Linked DNA regions of Homo sapiens: region 2 is linked to region 1. A link means that fine-mapping ties the variant in region 1 to the expression of a gene that starts in the linked region. Tissue or cell type: lung. Region 1 holds a variant in brackets; the other region holds the start of a gene. All regions are shown on one strand. Distances are from middle to middle.

Evidence for each region. PIP is the estimated chance that this variant, and not a neighbour inherited with it, causes the effect.
Region 2: SP100 starts here. The variant in region 1 is fine-mapped to the expression of SP100 in lung (TOPMed, PIP 0.97).

The regions. Positions count from the first base shown.
Region 1 is chr2:230,963,843-230,971,946 of GRCh38, forward strand. No RefSeq gene overlaps it. Among named protein-coding and RNA genes, the nearest start is that of SPATA3-AS1, 28 kb to the right of the region's middle. The variant C/T (reference allele first, on the strand shown) is at 5,022.
Region 2 is chr2:230,412,830-230,420,926 of GRCh38, forward strand. It overlaps SP100 (SP100 nuclear antigen), which reads left to right and starts at 3,372. Exons shown (of 29, transcript NM_001080391.2): 1 at 3,372-3,499; 2 at 4,762-4,836. The coding sequence starts at 3,468. RefSeq lists an enhancer at 3,019-3,538.

The DNA of each region.
Region 1 (8,104 bases):
GAAAAATTCTCCAAGTCCCCACTAGATTAGCTAGACATAGAGCACTGCTTGGTGCATTTACAAACCTTGAGCTAGACACAGGGTGCTGATTGGTATGTTTACAAACCTTGAGCTAGACACAGAGTGCTGATTGGTGTATTTACAATCCCTTAGCTGGACATAAATGTCCCCACTAGATTAGCTAGATACAGAGTGCTGATTGGTGCATTTACAAACCCTGAGCTAGACACAGGGTGCTGATTGGTGTGTTTACAAACCTTGAGCTAGATACAGAGTGCTGATTGGTGTATTTACAATCCCTTAGCTAGACATAAAGGTTCTCCAAGTCCCCACTAAACCCAGGAGCCCAGCTGGCTTCACCTAGTGGATCCTGCATCAAGGCCACAGGCGGAGTTGCCCGCCAGTCCCACCGTGCACCCGCACTCCTCAGCACCTTGGGCGGTGATGGGACCCAGAGCCACGGAGGCTCGGGCGGAGCAGGAGCCCACGGAGGTGGGGAGGCTCGGGCATGGCAGGCTGCAGGTCCTGAGTCCTGCCCTGCGGGGAGGCAGCTGAGGACCCGCGAGAATTCGAGTGCAACGTGGGCGGGCCGGCACTGCTGGGGGACCCAGCGCACTCTCTGTGGCTACTGGCCCAGGTGCTAAGCTCGTCACTGCCCAGGACTGGTGGTGGCGGCCGGCCGCTCCTACTGCAGGGCTGCCAAGCCCACACCCACCCGGAACTCGCGCTGGTCCGCCAGCACCCCGTGCAGCCCCGGTTCCCACCCGCGTCTCTCCTTCCGCGCCTCTCCCTCCACACCTCCCCGCAAGCAGAGGGAGCCGGCTCTGGCCTCAGCCAGCCCAAAGAGGGGCTCCCACACAGTGCAGCGGGAGGCCGAAGGGCTCCTCAAGCGCGGCCAGAGTGGGCGCAGAGGCCAAGGAGGCGCCGAGAGCGAGCGAGGGCTGCCAGCACGCTGTCACCTCTCAATATGATTGTTTTGAAATGATTATCCTTGGCTACAAGAGTCAGTAACAAAGGTGATGCCTGTCCAAGGTTGAACATTTAGCTTTGCTGGGCAGATTTCCTTGCGGAAGTATTTTTTTGTGTAAGGTTACAATGGCTTTTGTGCAAGGTTTTGGTTTTTACAGAGCCTTTTGTGATAGTTTTGTTATCACACCAGTCACACAAAGACAAATACTGTATGATTTCACTTCTCCAATGTCCTAGAGTAGTCAAATTCACAGAGATGAAAAGTATAATTAGTTTTTGTTTCATGGCTATAGAATTTCAGTTTTCCCAGGTGAAAGAGTTCTGAGGCACTCTAGTATGGATCGGTCTCCCAGATGAACTCATCGTGGGTGGTGGTGATGGATGCACAACAATATGACTGCCACTAAACTATACACTTAAAAATAGTTAAGATGGTAATTTTTACGTTATTTATATTTCACCACAAAAAGAATGTCTAACTTTTAAAAAGTAAATAAATGAAAGAAGTAATGGGATGCATCGTACCATACAAACTCTAATCAAAGAAAGGTGGGGCAACTGTATTAATTGCAGATAAAGCAGACTTCAGAACAAGGAAAATTATAAGGGAGAAAGAGGAACATTACATAGTGATAAAGGGATCAATTCCCCAAGAAAATAGAATAATTCTTAACATATATGTACCTAACAATGTCAAAATATGTAAGGCAAAAACTAGTAGAATTGCAAGGCAAATTAAAATATCCATTCTTATAGTTGGATACCTCAACATAAGAGATCAGTAGCTGACATATCCAATAAGGATATAGCTGAACTGAACAGCAGCATCAATCAACAGGACATAATAGACATTTATAAACAAATTCATCCAACAACAGTAGAATACACATTCTTCTCATGCTTACCAGAAATATTTACCACAATAGACCACATTCTGTGCCATATATGGAACATAAACATGTTTAAAAGAATTGAAGATGCAAAAATCCTCAATGAAATGGTAACAAATCTTTCAATAATGTCAGATTTGTCCAACACTGAGATTTATTTCAAGTATGCAAATCTGACTCACATTCTTAAATCAATTTACATAATTCATCACATCAACAGGCTCAAAAAGAAAAATCATATGATCACATCAATAAATGGAGAAAAAGCATCTGACAAAATTCAATACCCATTCATGATAAAAATACAACCCAAAATCTTCAGCAAACTAGGAATAGAGAAGAACTCCCTCAACCTGATGAGGAACAGCTACAAAAAACCCCTACATTTAACGTTAGACTTAATGGTGTAAAACTAGATGTTTTACCGTAAAATCATGAACAAGTCAAGGATGTTCTCTCTCACCAGTCCTTTCTATATCATACTGGAATTCCCAGCTAATACACTGCATTGTAAGGCAGTTTCATTGTGTGAACATTGTAGGGTTCCTACAATGGCATAGCCTACTGCACACCTGGGCTATACGTGTTAGCCTACATGGCATAGCCTACTGCACACCTGGGCTATATGGGTTAGCCTGTTGCTCCTAGGCCACAAGCCTGTGCAGCATGTTTCTGTACTGAATACTGTAGGCAATCGCAACACAATGGTGTATCTAAACATAGAAAAATATCGTTCAAAATATGGTAGGAAAAATAAAAATATGGTACACCTGTGTAAGGCGCTTACCATGAATGGAGCTTGCAGGACTGGAGGTTGCTCTGGGTGAGTCAGTGAGTGGTTGGTGAGTGAACGGTAAGGCCTGGGACATTACCGACCACTGCTGTAGACTTTGTAAACACTGTACATTTAGGCTACACCACGTTTATGAAAAATTTGTTCTTTCCTCAAGAATAACATAACCTTAGCTTACTGTACTTTTTTTATTTTACAAACTTTTCAATTTTTAAAAACATTTGGACTTTTTTATAATAATACTTAGCATAAAACACCAACATATAGAGCTGCACAAAATATTTTCTTTGTACCCTTATTCTATGAGCTTTTTTTTTTCTTTTTTTCTTCTCTTTTTTGAGGTGGAGTCTCCCTCTTGTCGCCCAAGCTGGAGTGCAATGGTGTGTCTTGGCTCACTGCAACCTCTGCCTCTTGGGTTCAAGCCATTCTCCTGCCTCAGCCCCCCAAGTAGCTGAGATTACAGGCATATGCCACCACGCCCAGCTAATTTTTGTATTTTTAGTAGAGACGGGGTTTCACCATGTTGGCCAGGCTGTTCTCAAACTCCTGACCTCAGGTGATCTGCCTGCCTCGGCCTCCCAAAGTGCTGGGATTACAGGCATGAGCAACTGTGCCTGGCCAAAAATAAAGTCTTTCTGTAAAGCCACCATAAGCAGTCAAAAGATAAATGCCAAACTGAAAGAAAAAAAAAAAACTTTTCACCACTTATATACAAGCAAATCAGTGAGAAAATGCTAACAACCCAATAGAAAGGGGGCAAGGAGGACATGAACAGACAGACGGTTCACAAAAAAAGAAATACAGTGATTTTTAAACAATAGAAAATTGCTCAACCAATGTCACTCTTTCTCTCTCTTTCTTTCTTTCTTTCTTCCTCCCCTCCCCTCCCCTCCCCTCCCCTTCCTTTCTTTCTCTCTCTTTCGGCAGGGTCTTGATCTGTTGCCCAAGCTGAAGTGCTGTGGTGCCATCACAGCTCACTGCAGCCTCTACTTCTTGAGAGGCTCAGGTGATCCTCCCGCCTCAGCCTCCTGAGTTGCTGGGACTAAAAGTGAGTGCCCCCATGCCCGGCTAATTTTTGTGTGTTTTGCAGAGATAGGGTTTCACCATGTTGCCCAGGCTGATCTCAAACTCCTGAGCTCAAGAAATCTGCCTGCCGTGGCCTTCCAAAGTGTTACGATTACAGGCGTGAGCCACCATGCCCGGCCTCAGTGTCACTCTTAATAAGAAACATACAGGATTAAAAGTACACTGAGGTACCAGTTTCATCTTATCAGATTGGCACCCATTCAAAAGCTTGACAGCACATGATGTGAGTAAAGTGGGAAATGGCACTCTCAAGAATCATCGGTGGAAATGTAAATGGGTACAATCCTAGTGGGGGAAATTTTGGTAATATTAATCAAGATTATAGCTGTGCAGGCCCTTTGACCCTACAGTTCTACACGAAGAATGCATCCTGGAGATATACTCACGTGTGGAATAACAAATCCACAGTTATTTACTGCAACATTGTTGATAACAAAAAGAGCAGAAACCACTCAATTGTCCATCATTAAGAGATTGGTTAAAAAACGATGGGACAGCCACGTAACGGAATACCATGCAGCTGCAAGGAAGAAAAAGGAAATGCTTTATGACCAAATGTAGGACAAGCTCCAAAATATATTGTGGAAAGAAAGCACAGAGAAATGTGTATGGTACACTATTGTTTATGTAAAGAAAGAAAGAAACCAAGGCCTTATTTATCCTTATTTGCTTGTAGAGGTACTGTACGGACAATCTCTAAAAAAAAATCTTTGCAAGGACACATAAGAAGCTGGAAGCCCGGTTGCCTTCAGGGAAAAAGAAAACAGGAACCCTGAGGACAGAATGGGAGGGATACCTATTTTGAATGGTATACCTTTTTCAGGTCTTTTGGATTTTGTACTGTTGGGTCTGTGGTAGTTCTTTTGTTTGTTTTTGGGGCGTTTCAGCAGTCTCCCAGGCTGGAGTGCCGTGATGCAATTATGGCTCACTGTAGCCTCGACCTCCCAGGCTCAAGCAATCCTCCCACCTCAGCCTCCCAAGTAGCTGAGACTACAGGCACATGCCACCTATCCTGGCTTTTTTTTTTTTTTTTTTTTAGAGACGGGGTCTCACTATGTTGCCCAGGCTGGTCTCAAACTCCTGGACTCAAGGGATCTGCCTGCCTCAGCCTCCCAAAGTGCTGAGGTTACGGGCGTGAGCCGCTGTGCCTGGCCTATGTTGGCTCTTTTCTCCTCTGCAATCTGGGGACACAGGCCAGACCCTGAATGAGGCTGCAGCTGCTGCAGCACTCTGACAAAAAGAGAAATCCTCACGGATGATGATGGTGGCCTTAGGGCACCTGT[C/T]AGCACAAAAGTGCTTTTCATAAGCACTAGTCATCTTCTCTGGTTTATAAGACAGGGAGTCGCAAGAGGGAGAAGATGGCTCCCATGGTGTGGGAGAGAGAAACTAAATCAAATAGGCCCACGGGTCCACCCACGCCCACTCACGACCTGGAGAGCCTGCAGTGGTCCATGCTCTACCACCCAAGGGGTAAAGCTCAAACGCCTCTGCCCGGCATCCTGAGACCCAGCTCCCAAGCAGCTTTCTGGTGCTCCCTTCCTCTGTTCTTCAGGTGGGCTGCACAGAGCCTACACCACTTTTCAACTTAGCCTCAGCATTCAGGGAAGTCTGCTTTTCAGCTCCACCTTCTGCCTTGGGAAGGCCCGAGAGCCGACTGGCCACTTTGAGGCAGGAGACTAGGGTCTGGAGGCAGGAAACCTAAGGCTGATTCACGCTGACTTCCTAGAACCAAATTGAAAGGAAAACCCCAACTTTCCATACCTAAGTAGCAAAAGGACCAGGGGCGACTCCCTTTGAAAACCACCCACCCGTTTCTGCTGGAAAACTGAAAGTACCTCTGATTGGTTGCTTCCTGCAACCGATCAGATATTTGCATAGGAGTGTAACTTTGTAACTTCACTTCAGTCTCTGATGAGTTGCTTTCTGCAACCAATCAGATTGATTTCGGGCCACTACTTTATTTGCATGGGGTGAACACCATGTGGCCAATGGGAAACCTCTAGGGGGTATTCGGACCCCAGAAGATTCTGCAACTGGGCTCTTGAGTCCCTATGCTCGGGGCGCTCCCACCCTATGGAGTGTGCTTTCATTTTCAATAAATCTCTGCTTTTGTTGCTTCATTCTTTCCTTGCTTTGTTTGTGGGTTTTGTCCAACTCTTTGTTCAAAATGCCAAGAACCTGGACACCCTCCACTGGTAACAGCTTCACTGCCTTGAAGTCCATCAGGGACCAGGTGGCCACAGAAATGATCATGATATGGAGCCTGCATATCATCTGGAGTTACTCCAGCAAGGCAGGCCATTCCAATTCGGTGGTAAGGCTGCATATTCACTTTGAATTATAGTTGAGCATGTGAGATGTAACGAGGAGTGAGAAAATATTATGTGCTTTAGGTTTTGAAGTTCTATCAGTCCATTGAAGTATAAATGCACCATTATTATTGCTGGAGCAAAATGTGCCAATAATTAGTGATGATTGTGAAAGGTATTTACTTTATGTACCAAAACAGTTATTAAGAGCTTCTCAACAGATAAATAGGGAAGTAGATTGATGGTTAAGATAATGTGTTAACTAGATAACTTTAAGAAGAACAATAGCACCTCTAGTACCAGCTACTCAGGAGACTGAGGTGGGAGGTTTTCTTGAGCCCAGGAAGTCAAGGCTGCAGTGAGCCAAGGTTGCGCTACTGCACTCCAGCCTGGATGACAGAGAAAGACCCTGTCTCACAAAAAAAAAAAAAAAGAAAAGAAAAAAAAGAGCAATGTATCACCTATGATGCAACACAATATAAAGATTTAAATGAGACTGTTAAGTATGATGACAGACATTAGACTTTATGACATCTAATCCTTATAAAAATTATTTGGTGTACTTGCATTTGTAATATTAAGCTAAATAAACTTTAGGATGGCTATTTAATTCTTAGTTACACAATTCAGTTATACATTTGGACCATAAGTCATTCCAGTAAGAGCCCAGTTTGGGAATTATTTTGTCGTTGTTGTTGTTGTTTTTGCTTTTGTTGTTGTTTGAGACAGGGTCTTGCTCTGTCACCCAGGCTGCAGTGCAATGGCATGATCATGGCTCACTGCAGCTTTGACTTCCTGGGCTCAAGCGATCCTCCCATCTCAGCCTCCTGAGTAGCTGGGACTACAGGTGCACACCACCATGACTGGCTAATTTTAAAATTTTTTGTAGAGATGAGATCTCACTATGTTGCCCAGGCTGGTCTTGAACTCCTGGGCTCAAGCAATCCTCCCATCTCGGCCTTCCAAAATGTTGGGATTACAGTCATGAGCCACCATGCCCAGCCTGGGAATTCTTTATATCTCAAACTTTTACAAGGAAGAAAAGTTTCAAAATCATGTAAAAAAAAAATCCGTGATGATATCTGATAAGGAATTAATATCCAGAACATATAGAGAACTCCTAAAACTTAAAAACAACAACAAAAACAAACAACACAATACAAAAATGAACAAAGAACTTGAATAGATATGTCTCTAGAGAAGAATGGCTGGCCAGGCATGGTGGCTCATGCCTGTAATCCTAACACTTTGAGAGGCCAAGGTGGGAGGATCACTTGCAGCCAGGAGTTCAAGACCAGCCTGAACAACATGGTGAAACCCCATCTCTATAAACAATTTGAAAATTAAAAAAATTAGCTCGGTGTAGTGGCACATAGCTATACTTCCAGCTACTCAGGAGACTAGGCAGGAGGATCACTTGAGGCCAAGATTTTGAGGCTGCAGTGAGCTATGATGGTGCCATGCACTTCAGCACATCACTAATTAGAGAAATTCAGATCAAAACCACGAGATGCCACTTCATACCCACTAGAATGGCTATTATAAGAAAGAAAGAGAGGATATTGAAGAATTGGAATCCTTGTACTGATAGGAATGTAAAGTGGTGCTGCCACTACTGGAAACAGAATGGCATTTTCTCAAAAAATTCAAAATAGAGGCCAGGCGCGGTGGCTCACACCTGTAATCCCAGCACTTTGAGAGGCCGAGGTGCATAGATCATGAGGTCAGGAGTTCAAGACCTGCCTGGCCAAGACGGTGAAACCCTAAAAATAAAATAATTATTTTTTATTAATTATTTAGTTAATTAATTAACTAAAAATACAAAAATTAGCTGGGCGCAGTGGCAGGCACCTATAATCCCAGCTACTCGGAAGGCTGAGGCAGGAGAATCGCTTGAACCTGGGAAACGGAGGTTGCAGTGAGCCAAGATCGCACCACTACACTCCAGCCTGGGCAACAGAGTGAGACTCCATCTCAAAAATAATAATAATAAATAAAATAAAATAAAAAAAGAATTACCATATGATCCAGGAATTCCACTTCTGGGTGTACACTGA
Region 2 (8,097 bases), 550 kb before region 1:
CATGGCCTCAGGCTGTTCCAACTCTCCCCCACGCTATGCAGGCCCCTGTCCTTGTGCACTTGAGCTTGGAGGAGCCAACAGAGTCTTGGTCTCTGCAGGCAGGATGACTCCAGGGACACCCAGCAAAGAGCAGGCTCACTCCCACTCCCAGTCAGAGAAGCGTCCCCTAGAAGATGGGCGGGGACCGGAAGGGACCGGGCCTTGACTGATTGATGTTCCACCTCCTAGAAGGAGACAGTTCGGCAGGACTGGGTGCTCCCACTAAAGATCCCAGGCGCCTGCCCTTCACTCGTCACTTCTACGTCCCTTGGAGGGTGGCCAGGTTCTCTATTCTCATGCCCCAGTGGCACTGTTCCTGTAGCTGCCTCCTGCCCTGAAACTCTCTGGTCCATGATGCCAATGACCTCATCTCAGGTACAGACCTCTGGTTCTCACATGGGGGTCCCAGGTTGAAGAATCACCCCCCACCATGTTACCAGTAGAGGGTCTTGACTGCAAGTTGTCCAGGTTCTTGGCGTTTTGAACAAAGAATTGGACAAAGCGCACAGCAAAGCAAGAAAAGAATGAAGCAACAAAAGAACGAAAGCAGGGATTTATTGAAAATAGAAGTACACTCCACAGTGTGGGAGCAGGCCCAAGCAGTATTCAACGGTCCCGCATACAGAATCTTCTCTGGTCCAAATACCCCCTGGAGGTTTCCCATTGACCACTTGGTGCTCACCTCATGTAAATGAAGTGGCGGCCTGCAATCAGTCTGATTGGTTGAGGAAAGCAACCAACCAGAGGCTGAAGTGAAGTTACAAAGGTCACACTCCTGTGCAAACATCTCATTGGTTGCAGAAAGCAACCAATCAGAGGCTAAAGTGAAATTACAAAGTTGTACTTCTATGCAAAGGAAGACTTGGCCTGCAATCAGTCTGATTGGTTGCAGACAGCAACCCATCAGAGGCTGAAGTAAAGTTACAAAGTTACACTCCTATGCAAAAAACAACTATACACAGGTACTTTCCATTTCCCATTGCCCCACAGAAAAGGTGGGGGTTTGCAAAGGGAGTAGCCTCTGGACCTTTTGTTACTTAGGCATGGAAAGTTAGGGTTTTCCTTTCAATTTAGTTCTAGGAAGTTAGCATGAAATGGCCTTAGGTTCCCTGCCTCCAGACCCTATTCTCCTGCCTCACCCACACCACTGAAGTCTGAACTGAAGCTGCTCTTGGTGAAATGTAAGAGGCCCATCATCTGGCTGGGTGCCCTGCCTGTGGTCCTTCCTCAATCACTGCCTCCCCTGCTTTTGAGTTTTCCAGGCTCCAGTAACTGGAACTACTTCTTGACAACAGAAATATTCCCTATTGCCTGTGCTCCTTGCAGCCATGGAAAATGCCCCAGGAGTTCCATTATTTCCTTCTAAACAGTCCAGCAGGATTTTTAGCTCACATGTCTTCTTAATGTGGTCCCGTCCCTTTCCCAACCCCAGTGTGTCTGACATTGTTTTCTGGATCAGAGAAACTTTGCTTTCTTCACAGAGGCCTACAGATTCTCCATATACCAGCGGAGCATGGTGCATGCTCATCTGTCTCCAACCTCATCTGATGAGAACATCTCCTTCCCTGCTGCCAGGAGGTGCCCCAGCATGGGCATGTCTGCCCGTGAAGTTCAACCCGTAAGGAATTCCCTGCCAGCCTGTGGCTCATTGGTCTGGAATTCCAGGTGCTGCTCTTAGTAGCCCCTAAGCACATCCAGGGAAAAGCTGGCACGTTTATGTCAGTGCCACTCAATGGCCTGAGCCTGCCTGCTGCCCAGAGGCAGCGAGAGGGGAGAACGTGAACCACACCAAAGCATACTGTGTGGTCCATGCCAGGACTTCTTGGGACCAATGTGCCTCATGGAGACTGGGATCAAAGGACAGCTGTGCCCAAAAGAGGCTCAGCTTACCAGCCCTTCAGCCCCATAAAGTCGGGGAGTCATGGGGGGTAGGAAGAATGAGAGAAAGAGAGAGAGACCTACAGGTGAGAGAAAGAGAGAGAGACCTACAGGTGTGCAGTGCCTGATAGAAACAGTGACCTTCGCCCACCGGCAAAGCTGTCCTCACCAATGTCCTGGTGCCTGGTCATTCACTCATGGGGAAAAGAAGAGCAGAAGTAGAGTGAGGGTAGAAAGCCCCTTCCCCCACATTTTCAAATGTACCTGGACAAGCATCCTTATTCACAGCTGGAAGAAGTTGGATTCAGTAGAATGCCATTTGGAAAACACCGTTCTGAAGTGCCATCCCCTCTGGCCCCTGAATCCTCACCAGCTTCCACCCTCTGCTCACCTTGGGCCCTGGATTCCAGCGCCCCCAGGCTCCCAGCTGCCTCCCTGTCTCTGCCCCATGGTCCGGCCTGGAGTTCTGGTCCCTGGTTGTGTCCTGTGGCCCCATTCTCATGCGCCCTTTGCTTCTGTTTCTTTACCTATGACTTTATACTGATGTAAAGCGAGTCTTCTCGGTCGCTTCTTGTTCTCTGAGGAATGATGAATCAGAATCTAAATGGAAAATCTGGGCAGAGATAGAACCTCCCGCGGGAGCCACCCTGCCCTTCCATGTCTAGATCATCTGGGTTCCAACCTCCATCCTCCTCCAATGAGAAGCTTTTGTTCTCTCAAGATTCCAGTGACTTCTCCGAAGCTTAGGTGTCTCTTCACCCCTGGCTGTTCCAAGGCGGCCCCATAGTCAAGATTCCTTAAACCCTTGCCCCTTAAAATGTTTGCCTTTCTTACCATGCTGGCTCCAGCCTCTGGTCCCAGGGGTGTGGAGAGTTCTCTCTTACTTCTGGCTGATTTCCAGGAAGGCTAAGCACACTCTCCCCAGGTTATAATGCTGAGCATTTTGGTTCTCTCCAGCCCTGGGTCCCAATGTCAGGACCTACCTTAGTCCAGTCCATGCTCTCCCATGGGCCTGAGAGAAGATTTGAGGTTTCTGGCTTTCCCTCCAACCCTCCAACTCCCACCCCAAGCCATGTCAGCAAGGGGAAGGGGCAAACATGGAGTTTCCCCCCCAACTCCCATGTAAACTATGCCCCCTCTTAGAGGGCAGAGCAGCTAAGGACAATTTTGTTTCAAGGACATTTTTTTTGGCTGTGTATTGCACAAACAAGTGGACACCCGGGAGCTGGCCCTGCTCGTCCCCTGGGCCCTCCTTCCCTGGTCCTGCAGGTCTTGCTGCTTGTCAGGCCTCTCCTCCAACCCTCTGCCACATTTCAGAAAAGCTGAGAATCCCTTGGAGTGAAAAAGGAGGAGAAACACAGTGTCCGTAGCCCAGAAGGAGGTTAAATACTTTCACTTCTCTTTTCCCCATTTGGGCGGAGCCCTTTCTGAGTCAGTCTGTCGGCCGACTTCCTGCTTGGGGCCTGGGCAGCCACACTGCACGCAGGCTGGGCCGACTGAGGGGCTCAGAGGCCAGGCTCTGAGGCCCACGCAGGGCCTAGGGTGGGAAGATGGCAGGTGGGGGCGGCGACCTGAGCACCAGGTGAGTCTTTATCTCCCTTCCTTTAACCTTTATCTCTGGCTATATTGCAGCTTTCATGCCTTTAGTTCAGTTTGTGCCTAAGGCTTCACTTTAATCCTTCTTTGCAAGAACATAGGTATGCGATGTTATATAATGAAATGAAAGACAAGTAATGAGGAAATCAGATTTTTTAAACAGGAGCAGGACAGCTGTTGGTGTGAGTTCAACTTGCCATAACACACGTGACTTTCTTGTTTTGGATTTACTGCTCAGCTGACCGGGACACTCTAAACATAGCAGTTGTTGGTGGCTGGGATTAACTATTTCCTCATGATCTGTGAACCCTTTCACCCCTCAGCCTTCCTCTACCTTCAAATATGTCATGTCAAAAAAGGTGCTTTAGAAAATAAACACTCCAGGGTAAACACCTGGCTTACTTTTAAACATCAGACGCTGTGGTCTCACCTGTCCTGGCAAGGGGCCTCTGCCGGCTGTTCCCATGACTGGCTCAGGGTCTGAGTTCTTATTCCATCAACCTTGATCAAAAGAAGGAAAGGGAAGAAAAAGGCCCAGGGTGACAAACGGCTAAATATTTTCATTTTTACCTCAATTTCCTGTCCCAAGATGGGGGATACCTCTGACCAGAAAAGAGAAGGAAATCCTAACTTTTCTCTAGTAGTGAGTTGAGAAATAACATTACTTAATCTTTTAAATTTTTTAATACAAAAGAAATACACTGTACATTATTGTTCATAAAATTTAAAACAGTGGAGAAGTATATTAAGGAAAAAGTCATCTTTGCCACTCAGCCATTCTTGTAGCTTCTCTTCCCAGTCCTGTGAAGAGTCTTGGGCACAGCTTTTCTTATATTTTTCTATGCATTTATATATCTAATGCATTTTTTGTAAATACGTAATTTATGTTCTTGATTTATAATAAATTATATTACATGTGCTAGTCTGCATTTTGCATTTTTACTTATTTTAATAGTGGAAAACTTAGAGATCTTTTAACCTTAATACATATAGATCTGCCTCATTCTTTTTATACATGCTATTCCATAGAATTGATATATGATAATTATTTATTCTCCAATTGAAGGACATTTAGATTGTTTTTAAATTGTTCACATTTACCAATAAGCTATCATAACAATGATTATATATTTCTTTTTGGGTTTTTACATCTAAACAAATATTTATCTTGTCTCTAAACCTTAAAAATGTAATTATTGAGGCAAAGGGTCCAGTTATTTACTTGGTCCTGCCAAATTGTCTTTCTAGGAGGCTGAATGAATGTATTTCACCAGTAGCAAATGAGATGAACCATCTTCCTGCACACAGCCACGATTTGCAAAGGTGATGAATGAAGAGTTATGTCTTGTTTTAATTTGTATTTTCCTTACGATGGGAAAATTGATCAGCTTTTCATGTTTCTTGGCCATTTAAATTCCCTCTTCTATAAATTGCTTGTTTGTTTTTTGCCAATATGATTCCGTTGAGGTGTTTGTCCTTTTTTTCGTGATATGGGAGAATTCACTAAATATTCTGTAAGTATAAATATACTTTTCTTGTCCATTACCTTTGTCTATGGTGACTTTTATCTTATTAAAGCTTAAAACTTAACATATAGGCCTCTTGTGATACAGATTTTTTTAAGATAGATGCACCCTTGTTATAAACGAGGTGATGCTGACACCCTCTGTGAGCACTCTTAGTTTTTACAATTATTTCTGTGTTAAGGTGGCAGATTCGCTGCTACCGCTATTCCAGGAAGAGTTCCTCCTCTAATATCTCTGAAAATTTTTTAAATTTTTAAACAAAAATATTCTTACATTGGAGCCACTTTAGCCTTCACAGCTTTTATTTGCCCCGTTTTCATCTTTTCAGTCTTTCACTTTGTGTTCATAATAGTTGTCTCAAACTTTTCCTCCATGACAATTATTTACCTTCTAGTAGGTTTCTTGTTTCTTGTCATTTCTAATTTTTTAAAAATTGATAGTGTTTATTTTTGAGGAGGGATCTTAATTGGTTTCTGTACGCCTGCAAGCTCCATAACCTCTTGTCATTCAGTCTTCACAGTCTTGCTTTATTTAGGTTTGCCTGTGCTGTTAAGAACTTTGGGATATTCTCCTTGTTGTCTCTTAGTTATTTTTCCAGACTGATTCTGTCTGATCTTGTGTTCCACGTGCCTGTGGTGGCTTTACAGCTCCTCTAGCCAGGCTTGGCCAGGGCAGGTCACCCCAAACTTCCCGTTTGCTTAGTCATAATCTGGATGAACTTTTTTTCTTTTTTTTTTTAACATTCCCTGTTTTATCTGAGATCAAATTGTTTTTTGTCTGAGCTACAGTTTGAAGTCTTTGTTTTGATTCTTATCAATTTTTCTGAGTTCACCGTTGATTGATTAAATTATCCTTTTCCCTGCTGATTCGCAGTGCTACCCTTTTTGGGAGTATAGAGGCAGGGTGTGCTTCTGTGTTCTCTCTTCTCTCCCCTTGGCCGGTGACAGCCCCTCCTTATGCCAGTACCACGCTGCCATAGTGATGGCAGCTTCCCAGGAACTCTTGACATCTGAGGGAGCAAATCTCTTCCTCTTCCTCCAGAATGTCTTAGACTCCCAAATTTGCCTGTCAAAATCTCGAGATTTTGTGTGGAACTGCACTGGATCTATAAATCAATTTGAAGAGAATGGACATCTTTACATTCACGAGACTTCCATCTCATGAATATGGTTTATGTATATTATTACTTTAAAAATGTCTCCTATTAAAATTTGTATTTTTCTCTCTGAAGGTTTTGCCCTTCTGCTAGATTCCTTCATAGATATTTGATATTTTTATGCCATTATTAACTAAAGTAGTCCTCCCTTATCAACAGTTTTACTTTCTGAGATTTCAGTTACTTGCAGTAAAACTTGGTCCAAAAACATTAAATGCAAAATTCCAGAAAACAATTCATGAGTTTTAAGATACTTGGCGTTCTGAGGAGTGTGATGAAATCTCATGCTGTCCCTCTCCATCCTGCCCAGGATGTGAACCATCCCTTTATCCAGGGTATCCACAGTGTAGACACTACCAGCCCATGAGTCGCTGAGTAGCTGTCCTGGTGATCAGATCGACTGTCCTGGTATAACAGAGCTTGTGTTCAAGGAACCCTTATTTTAGTCAATAATGGCCCCAAAGCACAAGAAGGTTGATGCTGGCAATTCAGATATGCCAAAGAGAAGCCGTCAAGGGCTTCCTTTAGGTGAAAATGTGAAATTTCCTGAAAGAAAAAAATAATATGCTGAGGTTGTTAATATCTACAGTATGATGTTTTGAGAGACAAAAAGAGACCACATTTACATAATTTTTATTACACTACATTGTTATAGTTGATCTACTTTATTATTAGATATTGTTATTCATCTTTTATTGTGCCTAATTTATGTACAGATTGGGGAAAACATAGTATATGCAGAGTTTGGTACTATCTGCGGTTTCAAGCATCCACTGGGGTTCTTGGAAGCATCCCCTGTGGATAGAAGGGAACTAGTGTGCTAAATTTTACATATGAATTTGCGTTGGTGACCCATGATCTGATCCATGGTTCTATTTTCATTCTTGTTTCAATACTGAAATGTTTTAGTTACTATGATTTTATAGGTAGTGTTCTGTAACCTACCTTACTGGGATTGAATTGAGAGACACTAAATGAACAGATAAATTTAGGAAGAATTTATGTTTTAAAAAAATCCTGAATGGCCCCAGTGAGAAACATAGTAAATCTCTCCATTTATTCATGATTGTTTGAACTTGGGACCTTGTTGGGTCGCTTTAGTTCTAGGCATTTTAAAATTGTATTTGTAAACAGGAATTCATTTTCCTTTTACATTTTCTAGTTATTTCTTGCTGGCATAAGGGAAATCTATTCATTTTAGTTAGCTGATCTTGTGCATAGGAGTCTTACTAAGTGGTCTTCTCCCTCTTAATATTGTCTTGTGTTTTTCTGGAGAAATAATTACATCTTCAAAGATAGTAGCAGCTTTGTCTCCTCTTTTTCAGAATTTATACCTGTATACTTTTCTTTTTCTTTCTTTTTTCTTTCTCTTTTGCCTTAGCGCATTAGCCAGGACTGCCAGTGTAATACTGAATAGTAACAGTAAAAATGAACATTTTAGTTTTATTCCTGATTTCAAGGGGAATACTTATAATGTTTAAATTGAGGCTTTCTTATAGACACCTTTTTTCAAGTTAAGGACATTTCCTGCTGGCTCTGGTTTACTAAAAGTTATTTATTTTAATCAGGCCTGTGTATAGGATATTTATCAAAATGCCTACTAAAGAATCTTTGAGAATTGTATCATTTTTCTCTTTTAATCTGATTTATCCACAGTAAATTATATTGAAACATTTTATTAATTCGGTTATTAATTTCACCAAAGTAAAACATATATATATATATAGCTTAAAGTATCAGTCAATAAGACCTTTAAAAACACAAGTAGTACTTTCTGCCATCTTCCCAGCCCATGTCCAGTTTCCCTAATGGATTAACTTTTTGGCTCTTACTTTTGTATTTACTTCTGTATTTTGAAATGATGTGCTGATACAGCTCTTTGTAATTTTTCAAGTTTCAGAC